Linked DNA regions of Homo sapiens. The protein of the gene in region 2 interacts with the protein of the main gene of each other region in a biochemical or structural test. Each region holds a gene or a part of one and is shown on either strand. Other genes may lie near its edges.

The links. The genes of interacting proteins can lie anywhere in the genome.
Region 1: the proteins of UBE2L3 (region 2) and SMURF2 form a complex in vitro, tested with the Homo sapiens proteins (11 studies listed by BioGRID, with this or other methods).
Region 3: the proteins of UBE2L3 (region 2) and WWP2 form a complex in vitro, tested with the Homo sapiens proteins (11 studies listed by BioGRID, with this or other methods).

Annotation. Positions count from the first base shown.
Region 1 is NC_000017.11:64,547,284-64,554,307, forward strand, and holds part of SMURF2 (E3 ubiquitin-protein ligase SMURF2), read right to left. Parts: intron 4,422-7,024; coding exon 4,301-4,421; intron 519-4,300; coding exon 317-518; intron 1-316. UniProt on the Homo sapiens protein: E3 ubiquitin-protein ligase which accepts ubiquitin from an E2 ubiquitin-conjugating enzyme in the form of a thioester and then directly transfers the ubiquitin to targeted substrates.
Region 2 is NC_000022.11:21,605,696-21,612,719, reverse strand, and holds part of UBE2L3 (ubiquitin-conjugating enzyme E2 L3), read right to left. Parts: intron 1,864-7,024; coding exon 1,677-1,863; intron 1-1,676. UniProt on the Homo sapiens protein: Ubiquitin-conjugating enzyme E2 that specifically acts with HECT-type and RBR family E3 ubiquitin-protein ligases.
Region 3 is NC_000016.10:69,757,524-69,765,355, reverse strand, and holds the start of WWP2 (NEDD4-like E3 ubiquitin-protein ligase WWP2), read right to left. Parts: upstream 3,025-7,832; 5' UTR 2,965-3,024; intron 1-2,964. UniProt on the Homo sapiens protein: E3 ubiquitin-protein ligase which accepts ubiquitin from an E2 ubiquitin-conjugating enzyme in the form of a thioester and then directly transfers the ubiquitin to targeted substrates.

The sequences.
Region 1 (7,024 bases), on a different chromosome or scaffold from region 2:
CATGGAAGTGAACGACTTCCCTACAGGAATGTGCAACAGAATTAAAAGTAAGGTGACCAGAAAACAAAGGCAGAGCATCACCACGTACGGTCTCTAGCATGCGGCACTCACTACAATCAGAGAAGCCCGCAGAAAAGGCTCTTGGGAAGGGAACAAAAGAAAGGAGGGAGAAGAAGGTATCACAATGTGAGAGTCACAGATAAGAAGTGAAAAAGAGAATCTCTAAGCACATGGTTTACAAAATATCTCCACAGACCCCACGCTGACAGCCCCGCCCCCACCCGCTGCCCAGCTTGCCTGCACCTCAGGCTGTTACCTTGCAATGCTTTGAAGCCCTGCAGAGGCACTCGAGAGGATCCTGTCACAAACTGAAGCAATCTTGCTCGTCGCTCTTCATCAAAAAACTCCACAGCTTTCCAGAACCATTTGACAATGTTGCTGTCTGGTGTACAGTGTTTTAACCGGGTGTTTACCTTCCAGTCATTAACATCTATCTTTCCAAGTCCACAAATAATGAGCTGTGAAAATAGTACACAGTAATGAACCTGTGGAAACCACAGCCAGACCAAAAATTCCTCAAAAGAGAACTTTAGGTTTGTACTGCTGGCTGTCATTTGGTGGTTCCTAATTAAAGATGCACATCAGAATCATCTGAAAAGCTTTTCAAATTGACATTCCAGGTCCTAGGCTCAGAGATGTTAATTCTGTGCACCTGGGGTGACAGTTGGGATCTATATTTTAAAAAGCTCCAGAGATATCTACTCACTGCAAACTCCCTCTCCAGGGTCTGAGAACCACAGCTGTGATAGACTTGACCAGGTAAACAATTGAGAATGTTTCATAAGTTCATAATAAAATTATAAAGCTTTAAAAAAAATGGACAGAAATTGAGACCCAAAGAGTAAATACAGATATGTGCCTTCTTTGGACCTGCATCATCTACTAGTTTCAATACCTATTAGCTTTGTTGATTGAGGGCAATTCAATCAATTCCTCTGCTGTAATATGGTAGTAACATCCATTTCACTACATCCTGGGGAAGCAACCGATAATGCACAGAAACTTCAGAAATGGGTGTTGAATAAGTGAGTCATACAATTTGCTTAATAATTTTTTTTTTTTAAGACAGAATTTTGCTCTGTCTCCTAGGCTGGAGTGCAGTGGCATGATCTAGGCTCACTGCAACCTCTGCCTCCCGGGTTCAAGTGATTCTCCTGCCTTAGCCTCCCAAGTAGCTGGGATTACAGGCATGCACCACAATGCCCAGCTAATTTTTGTATTTTTAGTAGAGATGAGATTCCGCCATGTTGGCCAGGCTGGTCTCCAACTCCTGGCCTCAAGTGATCCGCCTGCCTCAGCCTCCCAAAGTGCTAGGATTATAGGTGTGAGCCACTACACCTGGCCTACATTTGCTTAATAATATTAAATTGATATTAAAGCACAAAATACATGAGCACATTGATACAGACCTCTGCTAAACACATCCTGATGGAGGGTCACACAGATGAACTATATCCAAATCATTTTATACTATCATTAATATGTCTCCCTAGGGTTCAAGACTAACTCACCATACTAATCTAACATGTTTGTTTATAGCAGTGAATTCCATGTATACTATAAAACATAACTTGCAAATCCTGTATTTTATAGAATTACACCCAGGATTAATATATACAATGCTAAAATAAATGTTATACATATTGTCTTTAAAAATTGGTAGGGTGTGGTAGCTCACGCCTGTAATCCTAGCACTTTGGGAGGACGAGGCATGCAGATCACTTGAGGTCAGGAGTTCAAGACCAGCCTGGCCAACATGGCGAAACCCTGTATCTACTAAAAATACAAAAAGGTAGCCGGGCGTGGTGGCGGGCACCTGTAATCCCAGGTAAGGCATGAGAATCGCTTGAACCCAGGAAGTAGAGGTTGTAGGGAGCTGAGATCCCATCAGCCTGGGGGACAAGTGAGACTGTGTCTCCAAAAAAAAAAAAAAAAAAAAAAAAAGCCAAAATAATGTTAGCCAGGCGTGGTGGTGCACACCTGTAGTACCAGTTACTGGGGAGACTGAGGTAGGAGGATCACTTCAGCATAAGAGTTAACAGTGAGCTAGGATCATGGTACTGCACTCCAGCCTAGGCAACAGAGTGAGACTCTATCTCAAAAAATAAAAATAAAAAGTTTAATGATTCAGGCCTGGTGCAGTGGCTCACGCCTGTAATCCTAACAATTTGGGAAGCAGAGGCAGGTGGATTGCCTGAGCTAAAAAGTTCAAGACCGGCCTGGGCAACATGGTGAAACCCCATCTCTACTAAAAATACAAAAATTAGCCAGGCATGGTGGTGCACACCTGAAGTCCCAGTTACTCAGGAGGCTGAGGCACGAGAATCGCTTGAAAACCTGGGAGGCAGAGGTTGCGGTAAGTGGAGATTGTGCCACTGTACTCCAGCCTGGGTGACAGAGTGAGATTCTGTCTCCACAAATAAAAAAAAGAAAAAAGAGAAGAAAAACAAAGTTTCATGACCCATTAGCAGTAGAAACTATATTAAAAATCCTAACCCTACCAAATAAAGTCTCCAGTAAGGCTTCTATGGGGTTCTGAAATAAAATCTCCAACAAAGCTTCTACAGGGTTCACTGAATTAACACCACACTGAACAGGGAGGAGGTTATCCGAAAAGGATTATGGGTGTATTTAATGACATAAAAGACACCTCCTAAATTCTTTTCTTCAGAGGAATGGCAGTTAGAAGGCCAAATCCTCGTTTATTGTATAAAGAGATGAAAATGCATTATATTTCAACCTTATCGGCATTCCTGCTATGTTCTCCTTCTAACTACTTCCTTCTGGCTATTTCACTATGAACAATTCAATCACAAAAGGAATGGGGAGAGTATTAAGTAAAACCAACCTTTTTAGATTTGTTTGCTAACAGGTCTATTAACAGATTTATTTAGAAAGGACATTGAAGGCATTGAATAAAATCATGTTTCAAATTATTAGTAGACTTCAAATATTTGTGTTATCCCTAACTACTAAATAAATTTGGGACCTTTAATAGAATTAAACCTCGTGTTTTTTAGTTGTTCAGTAGGAAATTCAGATGCATTTGTTTAAGGTCTTAATTACAAAACCTGGGGTGTTTAAGGGCCAGCTTTAAAAGGAAACAAAAAACTATTCACTGTTTAGTATGGCCGTTAATCTAAAGACATTTAGAGGCCAGGTGCGGTGGCTCACACCTGTAATCCCAGCACTGTGGAAGGCCGAGGTGGGTGGATTATTTGAGGTCAGGAGTCCCAGGCCAGCCTGGCCAACATGGTGAAACCCCGTTTCTACTAAAAATACAAAAATTAGCTGGACGTGGTGGCAGGTGCCTGTAGTCCCAGCTACTTGGGAGGCTGAGGCAGGAGAATCACTTGAATCCAGGAGGTGGAGGTTGCAGTGCCACTGCCCTCCAGCCTGGGCAACTCTGTCTCCAAAAAAAAAAAAAAAAAAAAGAGAGAGACATTTAGATTCAATTTATCCTAGGTGTTTTAGTTATTTTCTCGATGATCTTGTCTATCAAATGCTTTCTTGCAAGCTTAGTGTAAAACTAATTCAGAGTAGGCTCTTACCCAAATAAATTTCAAAATGGTAGATTAATGAGGTTTTACTTAACTAAATCAGTAACCACTAAGTTAGGGAATAGACATATATTGGAAGAATGTACATATAAGTCACGAAATCTGTTTAAAACAAGAAAGTACAGGATAGAAAAATAAATTAAAAATTTTCACAATATAAGAGAGACTGCTCACAGCTGGGCATGGTGGCTCAAGCCTATAATCCTAGCACTTTGGGAGGCCAAGGCAGGCGGATCACTTGAGCTCAGGAGTTTGAGACCACCCTGGGAAACATGGCAAAACCCTGTCTCTACCAAAAAAAACAAAAAAATTAGCCAGGGGTGCTGGTGCATGCTTGTAGTCTCAGCTACTTGAGGGGCTGAAGGATCATTTGAGCCCAGGAGGTCAAGGCTGCAGTGAGCCATGATTGCACCACTGCACCCCAGCCTGGGTGACAGAGTGAGACCCTGTCTCAGAAAAAAAAAAAGAGAGAGAGAGACAGATTGTTCACTCACAGAAATTCCAAAGCATGAAAGGCCTTCAAAAGCATGAAAGACTTTTCCTGTGAATAAGAATTCTCAAGCATAGAACCATGAAACTTAGAAAGCACCAGAAATATGCTTTCCTCTAAAACTAAGTAACAAAATAATTCCCAATCCTTCCTTGTTACACTAGTGATGTTATAATACTAATGCACTAACCTCTAACTCCTTCTCATCAAATGTCTTCAGCAGATGTTGTGGAATTACTTCATTAAATCCTTTCTGCAGAGCCAAGAATTGAGCCTCAATGCCTCGTAAAAATCTCCAGTTCACATAGAGCCTGTAAACATTCGGCAGGATTTCGTATAATCACATGTATTTTCAGATCTGGTAATTATTATTATAAATCTCTACTTTAGCAACACCGCATCTTACAAGCATCTAACATTAACGGTTTAGCCTCAAGTCTAACAATAAATCTCAGACTAATGGGGATAAATGAACCCTGAGGTGTGACACAGTTCAATGTTGATGAAAAGTGGTAAACTACTAACAAAAGCAGCATCAGCAGAGCAACCCTTCAAATCAGAGAAGCTCCCAGGAAACAGGACGTCTACTAGAGCTGAGTCTTGATGAAATTTCTTTCTAAACTTACAGCATACATGCCAATAACTAGAATAAAGAGCTCTTTCACTCAAAAATGACTTATTTTTCTGATTTTACTTGCAAATGTAATTTGAATGTGTTGGGTGTTTTGTTTCTATTTGAGGGAGGCCTACGGGAGAAGAGGAGGTAGAGAATCCTCATACCAAAAATGAGAAGAATAAATAGTAAAAGCCAATAGCAAGCACTTTTTGATTAAATAATCATTGTTCTCTAGAGGATATAAAAATTCTGGAAGATGTAATTTTACCAATAAAAAAATGCACTAAACTACATCTATTGTGTGAATGTACGATTTATAAGTGAATTGTTTTTATTTATCTACCCAAGAAAACTTCTCCATCTCATGCATCACAGAACTTACTCATCTGTCAAATTTGTTAACATTTCCAAATTTGGAGAAATGGTTCTCTACTTTAAGAAATAAGTTACTTAACATTATATCCTTTGGAGGACCGTATTTTTGTTTGTTGGGTTAAGGGGACAGCAAAACTGTGTAACTGTAAAAGTTTTTCTTTGAATTTTTAATCTAATAACTGTAGTTGGCAAGGGATTATTACGTGCTGTAAACACGACTGAACCCTGAAGAGTGGGATCCAGGGACTGAGTAGGACACACGAGGTCTTGAAAAGGAGACACTGCTAAGACTTAGGAAATTCTCATTTGTTCTTTTTTTATTATTTTTAATTTATATTAGGTGGAGTCTCGTTCTGTCACCCAGGCTGGAATACAGTGGTGCGATCTCAGCTCACTGCAACCTCCACCTCCCAGGTTCAAGCGGTTCTCCTGCCTCGGGCTCCAAAGTAGCTGGGATTACAGGTGCCTGCCAACACGCTTAGCTAATTTTTGTATTTTTAGTAGAGACAAGGTTTCACAATGTTGGCTAGGCTGGTCTTGAGCTCCTGACCTCAGGTGATCCACCCACCTTGGCCTCCCAAAATGCTGGGAATACAGGCATGAGCCACTGCACCCAGCCTGTTCTTTCATTTTTTTTAAGTAGAAACGTAATACATACTTTTTACGTATATAACAAAAAAATCAAACATTAACTATGGAGACAGTAAAATATGAAAGTCCATTCTTTTACCCTCTTTCTCCTTCCTATTTCCAGTCGCATCATCTCCACTCCCTCATCCTAGGCAAAAACTTTATTTGGTTGCAGCCTCCTGAACATCTTCAGTATAATCATAAAAAAACAGCCAGGCACGGTGGCTTACACCTGTAATCCCAGCACTTTGGGAGGCTGAGGCAAGCAGATCACGAGGTCAGGAGTTTGAGACCAGCCTGGCCAATATGGTGAAACCCCATCTCTGCTAATAATAAAAAAAAGTTGCCAGGTGTGGTTGTGCGTACCTGTACTCCCAGCTACTCGGGAGGCTGAGGCAGGAGAATCACTTGAACCTGGGAGGCAGAGGTGCAGTGAGCCAAGATCTTGCCACTGCACTCCAGCCTGAGCAACAGAGCGAGACTCCACCTCAAAAAAACCCAAAAAAACAAAACAAAAAACAAAAAAAAAACCATGGATTTTGTTCCTACATAATTCTTCTAAGACTTACTTTTAAAATTTGACAGCTTATGCACTTTTAAATATCCACATAATATTCTGCTGAATGTATAATATAATCATTCTTCTCTAAAACCATTTTAGTAGTGTAACTTTTTTTCACAAGTAGCATTTAATTGACCGTCTTTCCCCGTATTCGTTCAGTTACATGTGTGTTTCTGCAGAAGAGCCCTAAACACAGAGCTGCTAGTTGAAGGGCACATGCTGCTGGTATCAAACTGCTTTCCAGAAAAGCTATGCCAGTGTTCACTCCAATCAAGTGGACCTCATATTTAAACTAGGAAACATTTTAGTAAGATTTGGGAACATAATCTATACACAGAAAGTATATCATGCAAGTTTCTGTGTACATAAAGTTCAAGTTCAAACTCCCAAAACTGATTACCATAGTTCTATATTTAGAGGACTTTTTATTTCTCATAAGCCAAATTAGCCCAATACATAAAAATTCCTCAATTTTTACTTTATGAAATCTGAAAAACATTTATTTACATTTATCCCTAAACTCACAATGTGCTCATTTATAAACAGGCTAAGTGTTAGTAAGATAAAGCACAAAAGCCCTTCTGAATTGCCACCTGTGATAGCTACACCACATGTGGCCCCAGTGCCCACATCTCCTGGTATTCACACATTTGTACAGCTCCTCCTCCATGATGAAACTGGGCTGGCTGTCTCAGTTTAACCAGAAGTAGACAGCAGAAGTCATGTTGGCC
Region 2 (7,024 bases):
GTGATCTGGGATGGCATCACTGCACTCCAGCCTGGGTGACTCCGTCTCAAAAAAAAAAAAAAAAAAAAAAAAAAAAGAAAAGAAAAGAAAAAATCGGCTGGGTGCGGTGGCTTACGCCTGTAATCCCAGCACTTTGGGAGGCCGAGGCGGGCGGATCACGAGGTCAGGAGATCGAGACCATCCTGGCTAACATGGTGAAACCCCGTCTCTACTAAAAATACAAAAAATTAGCCGGGCGTGGTGGCGGGTGCCTGTAGTCCCAGCTACTCGGAAGGCTGAGGCAGGAGAATGGCGCGAACTCGGGAGGCGGAGGTTGCAGTGAGCAGAGATCGCGCCACTGCACTCCAGCCTGGTGACAGAGCGAGACTCCGTTTCCAAAAAAGAAAAGAAAAGAAAAGAAAAAACCAGGCACTGAGAAGAACTGTGTCAAGCTTTTATAAACATCAGCTTGTACACAAACAAGGACCAAGCCCACTAGAGACTGTTCTGCCCTGACTGAATGTTTAGCACCCACTCCTTTCTTCTACTCAGTGTGGGAGTCTAATGGGCACCTTTCATGGTGATTACTTCCAACAAGTGAGGCTTGATTTTTCTTGCGCAAGGCTTTGAACTCCACCTTCCAAGGCTTTTTTCAATCACTAAAACAAGGGACCTCCTCAATCCCTGTGCAGGTCAAAAGTTCAGCTGAGTTATTCCCACAGGGACTGGTGGCACCTCAGCCATACTTTGCGTGCACCTGGTAAGGTAGGAGTTCTCTGGACTCCGTCTGATCTGGCATCAGGAAGGACCCATGAGCCCCTACCCTAGAGCAGCACCCCTAAAAGAAACCCTCCACTTGCAGCCTCTCAAGTGCCAGCTTCATCCACTCTAATCTAAACAGACTTTATACTGGTTTAGGTACTTAAAAGGAAGCCATCAAAATATGAGATTAGGACTTCAAAAGAAAGTCTAGAATTAAATGAAAACCAGACACAGTCCATAACAAACTAGTCACTTCTAGGGGACAAAAGGGAGGACAACCACAATACTGACTCAAATATTCTTCCCAGAAGAATGAGCATGTTTATGTTCACACAGCCACACACAGACATGTGCACCACGCACAGCCACATCCAACTCCAGGGAATCCCAGGCCCACTAAAGCCAACTACGTGCCTTCATCTGGGAATACTGCCCTTACATCTGCCTCTGTCCCTCCCCTCACATCACCCGAGCAACTAGGCTCTAGCCCATGCCCTTCCTATAGCCTGGAAGGCCCTCTCCAACCTCCTTTCCTCCTTCAAGTCTGAGTTCAGGCACTAACTACTGCATGAGGCCACCTTAAATCCCACTCTCCCTTCCCCTTGTAGGCAGCCCCACAGTCCTTCATCCCTTCCAGGGACCAGTGCCTGCACCTCTCTGCACCAGCAGCAAGCCACTGGGCTTGTCTGTCCATGTGTGTTCCCACTGTGGATGGCAGCCCAGGGCTGAGCACTGGAAAGGCCTCCTCAAACCCTATACAGGTCAAAAGTTCAGCTGAGATGAGCCATTCCCACAAGGTCTGACAGGACCTCAGCTACATTTTTCGTGTACCTGAAAGATTCTCTGGATTCTGTCTGATCTGGTACCAGAAGCCCCCACCCCAGAGCAGCACCCCCAAAGACCCCCTCCGAGGAAGACACAGGCACATGTCTTACCTTGGTCGGTTTTGGTTGCTGGCTTCCAGTTTTCGGCACTAATTACTGGCAGACAGACCTGCCCCTTTTCGTCGATGTTTGGGTGATAGATCTTTGTTTTAAATGTGATCTTCGGTGGTTTGAATGGGTACTCTGCTGGAAAGTTGATTTCGATTCTGAAGGCTCCCTTATCATATGGAGGGTTGTCCTGGAAGGAAAGAGAGATCAAAATGAACACACCATGGTTCATAAACCTATGGCCAAGACAGGAATGTTTTAATTGTTTATCTGAAAAATCAATTTATTTCAAGGGATTCAAGTATCAACTGAAGCCCTGCCACCTTCAGGACAACCCAGCCACCCAAAAGTATTTCTAGAGCAAGCTATCTGCTAAACTGAGAAGGGGCTTGAGATTGATGTCCTGGTCTCTTCATACTTTTTTAAAAAATAGACTTTACTTTTTAGAACACCTTTAGGTATACAGCAAAACTGAGAGGAAAGGACAGAGAATTCCTAAATACCCCCTGCCCCTGAACACACACAGCTTTTCCCACTATCAGCATCCCTCACCAGAGGGGCAAATTTGTTACCACCAATGAACCTTTTACCTTAACACATCATTACCACTCAGCTTCCCTAGTTTATGTTAGGGCTCATACTTGGTGTTGCACATTCTATAGGTTTTGTGTGGTTATCAGACATGATAGCTGGAATCATGCAATATGTAGCTGCTATGTCTGAATGTATCTCCCCAAAAATCTTATGTTGAAACCTAATCACCAATGTGATGGTATTAGGAGTTGGGACCATTGGGAAGTGATTAGGTCATGATGGGATTGGTGTCCTTATCAAAGAGGCCCCTGAGAACTGCCTTGCCCTTTCCATCATATAAAGACACAGTGAAAAGGCACCATCTATAAACCATGAAGCCGGCCCTCAGTTGCCACTGAATCTGTTGGCACCTTGATCTTCAGACTTCCCAGCCTCAATAAGTGAGAAATAAATTTGTCGTTAGAAGCTATTTGTTCTTTTTATTATTATTATTTTTTCAGAGTCTGTTGCCCAGGCTAGAATGCAATGGCACGATCTTGGCTCACCGCAACCTCCGCCTCCTGGGTTCAAGCAATTCTCCTGCTTCAGCCTCCCAAGTAGCTGGGATTACAGGCACCCGCCTCAATGCCCAGCTAATTTTTGTATCTTTAGTAGACATGCGGTTTCACCATGTTGGCCAGGCTGGTCTTGAACTCCTGACCTCAAGTGATCTGCCTGCCTCGGCCTCCCAAAATGCAGGGTTTATAAGCGTGAGCCACTGTGCCCAGCCGTTACTTGTTTTTCCCCCACTTCATACTTACTTATTTATTTTTGACAGGGTCTTGCTCTGTTGCCCACTGGATGGTGGCGTGATCTTGGCTCATTGCAACCTTGACTTCACAGGCTCAAGCAATCCTCCCACCTCAGCCTCCCAAGTAGCTGAGACTACAGATAGGCACCACCACCCCCAGCTAATTTTTTTGTATTTTTATAGAGACTGGGTTTTGCTATGTTGTCCAGGTTGGTCTCAAACTCCTGGGCTCAAGAGATCTGCCTGTCTCGGCCTCCCAAAGTACTAGGATTACAGGTGTGAGCCACTGCACCCAGACTCATTTCTTCTTAGTGTTGAATGTCATTTGTCTAGATATACCACAATTTATTTATCCATTAACCCACTGAAGGACATCTTGGTTGCTTTCAAACCTTAGCAATTAATGAATAAAGCTGTTATAAGCATCTGTGTGGATACAAGTTTTCAATTCATTTGGCTAAATACCAAGGAATGTAATTGCTGGATCCAATGGTAAGACATATGTTTAGTTTTGTAAGAAACTGCCGGCCGGGCGCGGTGGCTCACGCCTGTAATCCCAGCACTTTGGGAGGCCAAGGCAGGTGGATCACGAGGTCAGGAGATCGAGACCATCCTGGCTAACACAGTGAAACCCCGTCTCTACTAAAAATACAAAAAAAAATTAGCTGGACGTGGTGGTGGGCGCCTGTAGTCCCAGCTACTCAGGAGGCTGAGGCAGGAGAATGGTGTGAACCTGGGAAGCGGAGCTTGCAGTGAGTGGAGATTGCGCCACTGCAGTCTGGCCTGGACGAAAGAGCGAGACTGAGTCTCAAAAAAAAAACAAAACAAAACTGCCAAACTGGGCCAGGAGCAGTGACTCATGTCTGTAATCTGAGCACTGTGGGAGGCCAGGGAGGGAGGATCACTTGAGGCCGGGAGTTCAAGACCAGTTTGTGAAACATAACAAGACCCCATCTCTACAAAAAAAAAAAAAAAAAAAAATTAAATATATTAGCCTGGGCCAGGCTCAGTGGCTCACACCTGTAATCCCAGCACTTTGGGAGGCTAAGCTGGGTAGATCACTTGAGGTCAGGAGTTCAAGACCAGCCTGGCCAACGTGGTAAAACCCTGTCTCTACTAAAAATACAAAAAAATTAGCAGAGCGTAGTGGTGCACGCCTGTAGTCCAGCTACTTGGGAGGCTGAGGTAGGAGAATTGCTTAAACCCGGGAGGCAGAGATTGCAGTGAACTGAGGTTGCGCCACTACACTCCAGCCTGGGTGACAGAGCAAGATTCCATCTCAAAAAATAATAACAAAATAAATATATTGGCCTGGCATGGTGGCATGTGCCTGTAGTCTCAGCTACTTCAGAGGCTAAGAAGGGTGGACTTCTTAGGCCCAGGAGTTTGAGAATGCAATGAGCTGTGATCACGCTTCTGCACTCCATTTTGGGCAAGAGAGAGACTCAATTTCTTTGTTAAAAAGATTTTATGAATAAATAAATGAAAGAAACCGCCTAACTTGTCTTCCAAGGTGGCTGCACCATTTTGCATTCCCACCAGGAAAGAGCGAGAGTTCCTGTTGCTCTACGTCCTCAGCAGCATTTGGCAGTGTTCTGGATTTTGGTCATTCTAAGAGATGCACGGTGTTATTTATTGTTGTTTTCTTATTATAGAGTTTTAAGTGTTCTTTGTCCTTTAGACAGTCCTTTATCATATTATGTTTTTGCAAATATCTCTTGATCTTTTCTGAAGATACAAGTAGAGTTGTACCAGAGGTAAGTTACAACCCAACCAGAATACACTGTGAGTACTAGAAGTCCAAATAACTGCCTTGATGCCAAGTCCTGGCCAGCTCAATCTTCCCAGGGTAGAAACAGTAGTCAGCTCAATGGCTGGACCCTGGGGACCTGAGCTGGTCACTCAACAGGTGATCACCAGGCAGGGCCAGCACCATGCCCTAGCCCCTTGCCCCTAGAACCACCCGAAAACCACCTTTGGGGCCTGGACACTCTGATGGCCCCAGGAGCCTGAGAGATGACTCAGCAAAGAGTCTTTTGGCCTCTCCCCAACCCTACCTATCTCCAGAGCTGGGGAAGCCCTTCCCATTGTACTCCCTTTTCCCTCACCCAGGTCTGCCATGGCACTTGCCATGGCACACCCAACCCAAAGAAATCCAAGCTTCACAGAGAGCCCAAGAACAATCTTTTTTTTTTTTTTTTTTTTTTTAAGACGGAGTCTCGCTCTGTCGCCCAGGCTGGAGTGCAGTGGCGCGATCTCAGCTCACTGCAACCTCTGCCTCCCTGGTTCATGCAATTCTCCCACCTCAGCCTCCTAAGTAGCTGGGATTACAGGTACCCGCTACCCTGCCCGACTAATTTTTTTTTTTTTGTATTTTTAGTAGAGATGGGGTTTCACCATGTTGGCCAGCCTGGTCTTGAACTCCTGACCTCAGGTGAACTGCCGGCCTCGGCCTCCCAAAGTGTTGGGATTACAGGAGTGAACTACTGCACCTGGCCCCAGGAACAATCTTGACAGCCCTACACCCCAGCCCCATATCTTCAAGCCGTGGCCTAAGTACGCACTCCAGTAAACAGAGCTCCTCTGCTGGGGAGCAAGGCTGGCGTGCGCCAGTTCTCCACATTCTCCTACATCCAAGCCCTGCCCTGGGAGGGGAGGCATGGAGCAAGGGCCTTAAAGGATGGATAAGATGACATAAGGCTGAGGAGTGGAAGAGGCCTCCCAGGCAGAGAGGACTAAAGACTAGATGGCAGGGACTTGGAAGGAATAGCATAGAGCAAGACAGGAGGCTGCGGGCAGGCAGTGTGGCCCCAGGGCTACTGAAGCCACGCGTCCAGGTCTGAATCACCACCGAGCAGCTGAAACCACTGTCAGCATATTCATCTGTGGGGAGTCACCCAGGCTGGAGTGCAGAGGTGCAATCACGGTTCACTGCAGCCTTGACTTCCCGGGCTCTAGCAATCCTCCCACCTCAGCCTCCCAAGTAGCTGGGACTACAGGCATATGCCACCACACTCAGCTATTTTTTTATTTCTTATAGTGATGGCGTCTCACTATGTTGTCCAGGCTGGCCTCAAACTCCTGAGTTCAAGTGATCCTCCCAAAGTGCTGGAGTGCTGGGATTATAGGAGTGATGCACCATACCCAGCCAGCTTTTAGTTTTCAAGAGGAGAATTAAATGGTGGTGGTGGTGGGGGGAAGTAAGTAAACATCATTGTCATTTACACTGCTTGAGCCATGTAAAAATAGCTTTCCCTCACTGGGTGTGGTGGCACACTGGGAGGCTGAGCCAGGAGAATCACTTGAACCTGGGAGGCAGAGGTTGCAGTGAGCCAAGATTGTGCCACTGCACTCCAGCCTGGGCAACAGAGTAAGACACACACACACACACCACACACACACACACATACCACACACACGCGCGCGCGCACACTTTCCTGCATGACTTTTGGTTGGTGAAATCTGCTAAAGGTCTTCACTGATTGTCCAGGACTGACCAACCTCCCCTGTTCCCCACTGTGGGCCAGGTCCTGTCCGAGGAGCTGGGGTGAAGCATGAATGAGGCCATCTGGCCCCAAGTTAGCAGGTCTAGCCTCAGACTTTGCCTCTTCCTAGCTTAAAGAGTCTGAGAATGTTCCTGTACATCTGTAAAATGGGAGTAGCAACAGCCTGTACCCAGAGTTTATGATGAGAGATAAGGACTATAAAGTCCTACATGCCTGACACATGGGCAAAGCTCAAGAGAAGCAGATTTGGCTGGGTGCAGTGGCTCATGCCCGTAATCCCAACACTTTGGGAGGCTAAGGCAGGAGGATCACAAGAGCCCAGGAGGCTGAGGCTGCAGTGAGCCATGATCACACCTCTACACTCTAGCCTGGGTGACAGAATGAGAACCTGTCTCAAAAAAGCCAAAAACAGACTGGGCGCAGTGGCTCATGCCTGTAATCCCAACACTTTGGGAGGCTGAAATGTGCAGATCACTTGAGGCCAGGAGTTTGAGACAAGCCTGGCCAACATGGTGAAACCC
Region 3 (7,832 bases), on a different chromosome or scaffold from region 2:
ATGGGAGCCACAAGTGCAAGCCACATTTATAATTTTTTATTTTTCTAGGAAATACATTTTAAAAAGAAAAAAGTGCTGGGTTTCAAGTCAAGGTTAAGTGGGAAAAAAAAAGACAAAAAGGTGAAACTTTTTTTCTTTTTCTTTTTCTTTTTTTTGAGACAGGGTCTCACTCTGTCACCTAGGCTAGAGTGCAATGAGTGGCACGATCACAACTCACTGCAGCCTCCACCTCCCCAGGCTTGGGTGATCCTCCCACCTCAGCCTCCTGAGTAGCCAGGCGGGCGCCACTGCACCTGGCTAATTTTTGTATTTTTTGTAGAGACAGGGTTTCACCATGTTGCCCAGGCTGGTCCCAAATTCCTGGGCTCAAGCAATCTATCCACCTTGACCTCCCAAAGTGCTGGAATTATAGGCATGAGCCACCATGTCTGACCAACTATTTATAATTACGTTGTATTTAACCCAATAAATCCAAAATGTTATCATACATGTTTATACATTATATGATCGTTTACTATAACATAAAAAGTATCAATGAGACATTTTACTTTTCTTCATGCTAAGTCTTCAAAATCCAGAATGTATTTTATGCTCACAGCATAGCTCCAGTGCTCAGCAGCCCCATGTGGCTAGTGTACACCATACTGGACTCTACAACAATGCCTGGCAAAGACAGAGTGGGTACTTATAAATATTCACTGAATGAAAGAATGTTTTCCCAGGAAGAGGAAGCTATGGTAGAGTACAGCGTTTTCTAAACTTCATTTACTCACATTCTACATTCACAACTTTTTCTGTGTGATCTTTTTCCTTAAAATGTTACACTTTTTATTCCTGAAAAATTATGTAAAAATAAAACTTTCAGTTGGGCATGGTGACTTACACCTGTAATTGCAACACTTTGAGAGGCCGAGGTGGGAGGATCGCTTGAGCCCCGGAGTTTGAAAACAGCCCGGGCAACATAGCAAAACCCCTGTCTCTACAAAAATTAGCCAGGCGAGGTGGCACCCACCTGTAGTCCCAGCTGTTTGGGAGGCAGACATGGGAGGATCACCCGAGCCCAGGCAGGTCAAGGTTACAGTGAGCCGTGATTGTGCCACTGCACTCCAGCCTGGGCAACAGAGTAAGATCCTGTCTCAAAATAAAATAAAAATAAAATTTTCTATTGTGTCAATAAATGAAAAAGAATGGATCTAAGGATTAAGGGTCTGGGCTTGAGTCCCTACTCATTTACTAGCTCTGAAATCTAAAGTAAGGACTTCATTAAGCCTCAGTCTCTTCATGTGATATAGGGACAATACTGACCATCCCAATTTCAAAGGGAAGGTTAAGTGAGATGTTGGTATACGCTCTTTGTAAATGGGAAAGTAATCATGAAGTGAAAGAGACTGAGAAGCCAATCCAAGCCTTTCTCTCGAGCCTGTTTTCATATGGACCAATGACACAGATAATCACAAGCTTCTCTGACAAGAAAAAGAGTAGAAGACTTGGGTTCAAATCCTTTGTCACCACTTACGCCGGTGTGACTTTTAGAAATGCATTTATTCACCAAATATTTATCAAGTGCTCACAACATGCCAGGCACTAGGCTAGCAGCCAAATAAAATATGAAACCTGCCCTTGAAGGATTTGCAATCTAGCAGGAAGAGGCCAGCAAACAAGAAAGAGCAATAAATTGTTTTAAAAAATCAAGTCGTCTCTCGTAAGTCTGTTTGTTCCCTGTGAAATGAGAATACATCTTCCCAACCTCACTCATAGGCGCTGCTGCAAAAACTAATTTTTAAATGTTTGTCAAATAACTCCAAAAACTTGAACTCATAATACATTAGGAAAGTACTTTTTCCTACTTGTAACCCAAAACGATGCTGGCTGCTGTGAATGTCCAGTTTGAACATTCGTTCCAGTTACACTGCACTCATGAAACTCCTTTTGCTTCTGCAAATTTTAGTAAACATGAGAAACAGGAAGATGAACAGGCTTTAACACAAGTATTCAATCTCAAAATCATGATCCAGGTCACAGTTCTAAGGAACATAACACAGACCTCTCAGGCACCCTACCTAGTTACAGTTCGTCAAGATAAGCAGTCACAAGATAAGCTAAGGGAAACTGAATAATTTAAACGGAAGAAAGAGAAAAGTCATAAAGCAGTCTAGGTAGACACTTCTCTGTCCAAGATTTCAGCAGTCACTATGTTGCTGAGGTAACGCTGGGCTAGGTCAACAGTGTAAGCTAAAAGCCATTTTACAGGCAAAGTGCCCACACTTATTTTTTTAATTTATTTTCTTTTTTTGTTTTTTAAAGCCTCGATGATGGCCCGTTCAGGGAAAATCTCAAAGAAAAATGAGCTGAAGGGCTAGGCTCCCAAGAAGTGGAAACCCTACCCACGCAGGACTAAGTGGGCGCGAGGGAAGCAAGACGATCAAGATTCTGTGATCCCTCCTGAAGTTTAAAAACTGAATGGGACCGTCATCAAAGTCTCGGGTAACAATCATTTCCAAACAGGAAGGAAGGGAGAGACTCTCAGAGGGGGTCCAGGCAGCATCTTTTTCCCTCTGGCTCCACGCCATAAACCCATTTTCAGGCACCCCCTTCCAGCTCAGTTCCAAGTCGCCCCTTCCCCTGGTCCCGATCCCTCCACAAAGATCGCTCCTCTCCATGCCTGGGAACCTAAGCTCCTCTCCCCTTCCGGGAGGACTCGCTCCAGCTGCACCCTTGGCGGCCGGGGCACCCATTTCGGAGCAACCCCCGCGCGGGCCGCGGCGCGCCCACCCCACTCGGGCGGGAGCCGGGACACCCCTCCTCGGAGGCCGGAACCGCCGCGCCAGGCCCCTCCCACAGGAAGCCGCCGCCCCCCGACGCCCGGGCCGCGCCGCCCCCGGCCCACCCCGCGCCGCCCGCCGCCCCCGGCCCGCCCCGTGCAGGCAGCCAGCCCACCGCGCCCCCCGCGCCAGCGCTCGCTACCTGCCGTGGCCACAGAAGCGGCGCCGAACTCCTCTCCTACTTCCGCCTTCCACCGCCCGCACTCGGGCCGGGTCACGTGACCGCGCGCGGTCACCTGACCCGGAAGAGGCTGGCCAGGCTCGCAGGTGCGGGCCACCTAGGCCTGGCCTGGGCACCTCTGGCCTCGAGGAGGCCTTTTTATCGTCTCTGTAGTTGAAAGTGGAAGGGTTTCTGCTCACCGGATGGTCCCAGGCAATCAAATAAATTGAGGGCTCACTGAATGCCACCTACTCTGCCCATCAACCTTATAGAGGCAGGGACAGGTACTAGCCCCATTTTACAGGTGAAACGAGACCTTCAGACTGTTAAGTCAGCAAATACTTAATTGAGCTCCTTTAGTAGGGTTGCCAGATAAAGTACAGGACACCCACTTAAATTTGAATTTCAGATAAACAACAGTGTAATATGTATGTCCCAAATACAGAATGGGACATATTTATACTAAAAAAAGTATTTTTTGATTATCTGAAGATCAAATTGAATTGAGTATCTGTATTTCTATTTCCTGGCAACCTTATGCCTATTATGTGCCAGGCACTGTTCTAAGATCCAGGACCACAAACATCTCAGCCTTTGTGGGGCATCTGTCCTTGTGACATGAAGCAAAAGTACAAAAGCTTAAAAACTCCTGCTTGGCTCCATAAAAAGCCCCTCCACACTAATCCAATCGCATTCCCTTAATCTACAACTACAGGGCACAGAGAACTTAATGAATTATAATCCAGGTAGGTAGGTAGGTAGGTAGGTGGATAGATAGATGATATTTTTTTTTTTTTTTTTGAGATGGAGCCTCGCTCTGTCGCCCAGGCTGGAGTGCAGTGGTGCAGTCTCAGCTGACTGCAACCTCCGTCTCGCCGGTTCATGCAATTCTCCTGCCTCAGCCTCCCGAGTAGCTGGGATTACAGGCGTGCACCACCACGCCTGGCTAATTTTTGCATTTTTAGTAGAGACAGGGTTCCTCCATGTTGACCAGTCTGGTCTCGAACACCTGACTTCAAATGATCCGCCCACCTTGGCCTCCCAAAGTGCTGGGATTACAGGCATGAACCACCGCACCTGGCAGAGAAATATTTTTTTTAAGAGATGGGTCTGGATAGGTTGCTTTGGCTGGGCTCGAACTCCCAGCTTCAAGCAGTCCTCTTGCTTCAGCCTCCCAAGTAGCTGAGACTACAGGCGAATGCCACTGTGCCTGCCCAATAACTTTATTTATTTATTTATTTATTTATTTATTTGCTTGCTTGAGACAGAGTTTCACTCTTGTAGCCCAGGCAGGAGTGCAGTGGCTCAATCTTGGCTCACTGCAACCTCTGCCTCCCAGGTTCAAGCAATTCTCCTTCCTCAGCCTCCTGAGTAGCTGGGACTACAGGCACCCACCACCATGCCTGGCTAATTTTTGTATTTTTAATAGAGATGGGGTTTCACCATGTTGGCCAGGCTGGTCTCAAACTCCTAACCTCAGATGATCCACCTGCCTTGGCCTCCCAAAGTGCTCAGATTATAGGCGTGAGCCAATGCGCCCGGCCTCCAAGAACATTTTAAATAGACATTCTTGACTGATGTTCTGGACAAGTTGAATGAAGGCTCAGTTTAATCACCATTGATTAAAATTAATACTAATGACGTAATTAGCCTCAAAGACTTGTACTAATCTGTTATTTTTGGGTCTTCGAATTGGGATGGATTCTATCATGCATACAAATTAAATTGGCTGGTGGGGCGTGGAGGCTCACGCCTGTAATCCCAGCACTTTGGGAGGCAGAGGCAGGTGGATTACCTGAGGTCGGGAGTTCGAAACCCACTTGGCCAACCTGGTGAAACCCCATCTCTACTAAAACTACAAAAAAAAAAAAAAAAAAGATTCGCCGGGCATGGTCCGGGTGCGGGTAATCCCAGGTACTCCAGAACCTGAGGCAGGAGAATTGCTTGAACCCGGGAGGCGGAGGTGGCAGTGAGCCATGATAACGCCTCTGCACTCCAGCCTGGGCGACAGAGTGAGACTCTGTATCTAAATAAATAAATAGGTTGAACACTTAGTCTCTACTTTTTGTAGTACCACTCCAAATCCAAGAGATTAACTTTCAAGGAGATACAGTCCTGTCTTTGTACATTAAACCCTATATTAGTCTCATTTATAAAACTACTATAACTAAAACTTCTCCAGTTCCATTGATGGCAGTTTTACTAATTCTGTTCTAGATAAATTAGAGACTATTTCCTTGACTTACTAGCATTTGTTGGTTTCGGTTTGTTTTCTTCTTTCATATTTCATTTTTTATCTTTTGTTGCTTTTTTTTAACAACCCTGCAGAAAAGATTTAGTGGCATCTGAGTAAGTGTTCACCAAAGGGGAGAAGGGACAAGCAAAGAGCACACACTGCACATTAAAAGAATAAAATCTGACAGGGTGCGGTGGCTGGCACCTGTAATCCCAGTACTTTGGGAGGCCAAGGCGGGCAGATCAGACTGTCAGGGGCTCGAGATCAGACTGGGCAACATGGTGAAAACCCATCTCTACAAAAAATACAAATATTAGCTGGGCATGGTGGCACACACCCGTAGTCCCAGCTAATCAGGAGCCTGAGGCTTGAGAATCGCTTGAACCTGGGAGGCGGAGGTTGCAGTGAGCCAAGATTGCACACTGGACTCCAGCCTGGATGACAGGGTGAGACTCTGTCTCAAAAAAAAAAAATTGATATGATAAACTAGAAAATGAGAAATAGCCTCCAGCCATACTCTGTTACGGCAGGTAGCACAGGCACGTTCTAGATAATGAAGAGACTGAGTGGTGAGAAAGGTTGAGCCAGGTGCAATGGCTCACGCCTGTAATTCTAGCACTTTGGGAGGCCAAGGCAGGTGGATCACCGTACATCAGGAGTTCGAGACCATCTGGCCAATATGGTGAAACCCCATCTGTACTAAAAATACAAAAATTAGCCAGGCGTGGTGGCGGGCACCCATAATCTCAGCTACACAGGAGGCTGAGGCAGGAGAATTGTTGAACCTGGGAGGCAGAGGTGGCAGTGAGCTGAGATCGCACCACTGTGCTCCAGCCTGGGCGACGAGAGCAAAACTCAGTCCCCTTCCCGCCACCCCAAAAAAAGAGAAAGACTGAATTTGGGTAATTGCTGAAAGGCAATATTCAGTAGCACTGAAGGATTTTTGGGGTAGGACAGATAAATGACAATTGAGGAATCCAGCTGGCGTGAAGACTTCATGAAGAAAGTTTGCATGAAGACCCAAGTCGACATTCAGCAAAATTCACCGGATCTTATAATCATAAAATTTCAGATTTGCAAGGAAACGTAGAAGTCACTAAATACACCTTCTGTTCAATTCAGCAAGGAATTATTTGCTACCAAATTATGTGTGTTGCTTAGGGAGGTGGGGTGAGACTATTAAGACAAATTAGACAGACTCTGGCCCCACGTTGCTCAAAATGAAGTGAAGGCACATAAGCAGCAGTCAGTATAACAGAATGGATAATTAGGTGGCTCAGGGACAGCACCGTGTCTCACACCTGTAATCCCAGCACTTTGGGAGGCCAAGGCTAAAGGACTGCTTGAACCTGGGAGTTTCAGACCAGCCTGGGCAACATGATGAGACTCTCATCTCTACAAAAGTAAAAATGAAAAAACTAGCTGGGCATGGTGGTGTGGGCCTGTGGTGCCAGCTACTCGAGAGGCTGAGGTAGGAGGCTCACTTGAGCCTGGGAGTTCAAGGTTGCAGTGAACTATGATCATGCCACTGCACACCAGCCTGGGCAACAGAGAGAGACCGTGTCTCAAAAAAAAAAAAAAGAAAGAAAGAAAGAAAGAGAGAGAGAGAAAAGGAAAGGAAAGAAAAAAGAAGAGAAGAGAGAAAAAAGTGGCTCTGAATCAGTTTGTCTGGGTGTTACGTTATTTTCACCACTTACTGACCATGTCAGCTACACCTAGTGGCTTTAGTTAGCTATCCCTTGTCTGTAAAACAGTACCTATCTTGGCCGGGCGCGGTGGCTCACGCCTGTAATCCCAGCACTTTGGGAGGCCGAGGCGGGTGGACCACGAGGTCAGGAGATCGAGACCATCCTGGCTAATACGGTGAAATCCTGTCTCTACTAAAAATACAAAAAAAGTCGGGCATGGTGGCGGGCGCCTGTAGTCCCAGCTACTTGGGTGGCCGAGGCAGGGGAATGGCGTGAACCCGGGAGGGGGAGCTTGCAGTGAGTTGAGATCGCGCCACTGCACTCCAGACTGGGCGACAGAGCAAGACTCCGTCTCAAAACAAAACAAAACAAAAAAAAGCTTTTCTCGGGACGGGAGAGGCCGTGTAGCGTCGCCGTTACTCCGAGGAGAGACCAGTCGGTAGAGGAGAAGTCCAGGTTAGAGGGAAGTGGGAGGCACTTTGCTGTCTTCAATCGAAGTTGAGGGTGCAAAAATGCAGAGTAATAAAACTTTTAACTTGGAGAAGCAAAACCATACTCCAAGAAAGCATCATCAACATCACCACCAGCAGCAACAGCTGCAGCCGCCACCACCGCCAATACCTGCAAATGGGCAACAGGCCAGCAGCCAAAATGAAGGCTTTGACTATTTGGCCTGAAGAATTTTAGAAAACCAGGAGAGAAGACCTTCACCCAACGAAGCCGTCTTTTTGTGGGAAATCTTCCTCCCGACATCACTGAGGAAGAAATGAGGAAACTATTTGAGAAATATGGAAAGGCAGGCGAAGTCTTCATTCATAAGGATTAAGGATTTGGCTTTATCCGCTTGGAAACACGAACCCTAGCGGAGATTGCGAAAGTGGAGCTGGACAATATGCCACTCTGTGGAAAGCAGCTGCGTGTGCGCT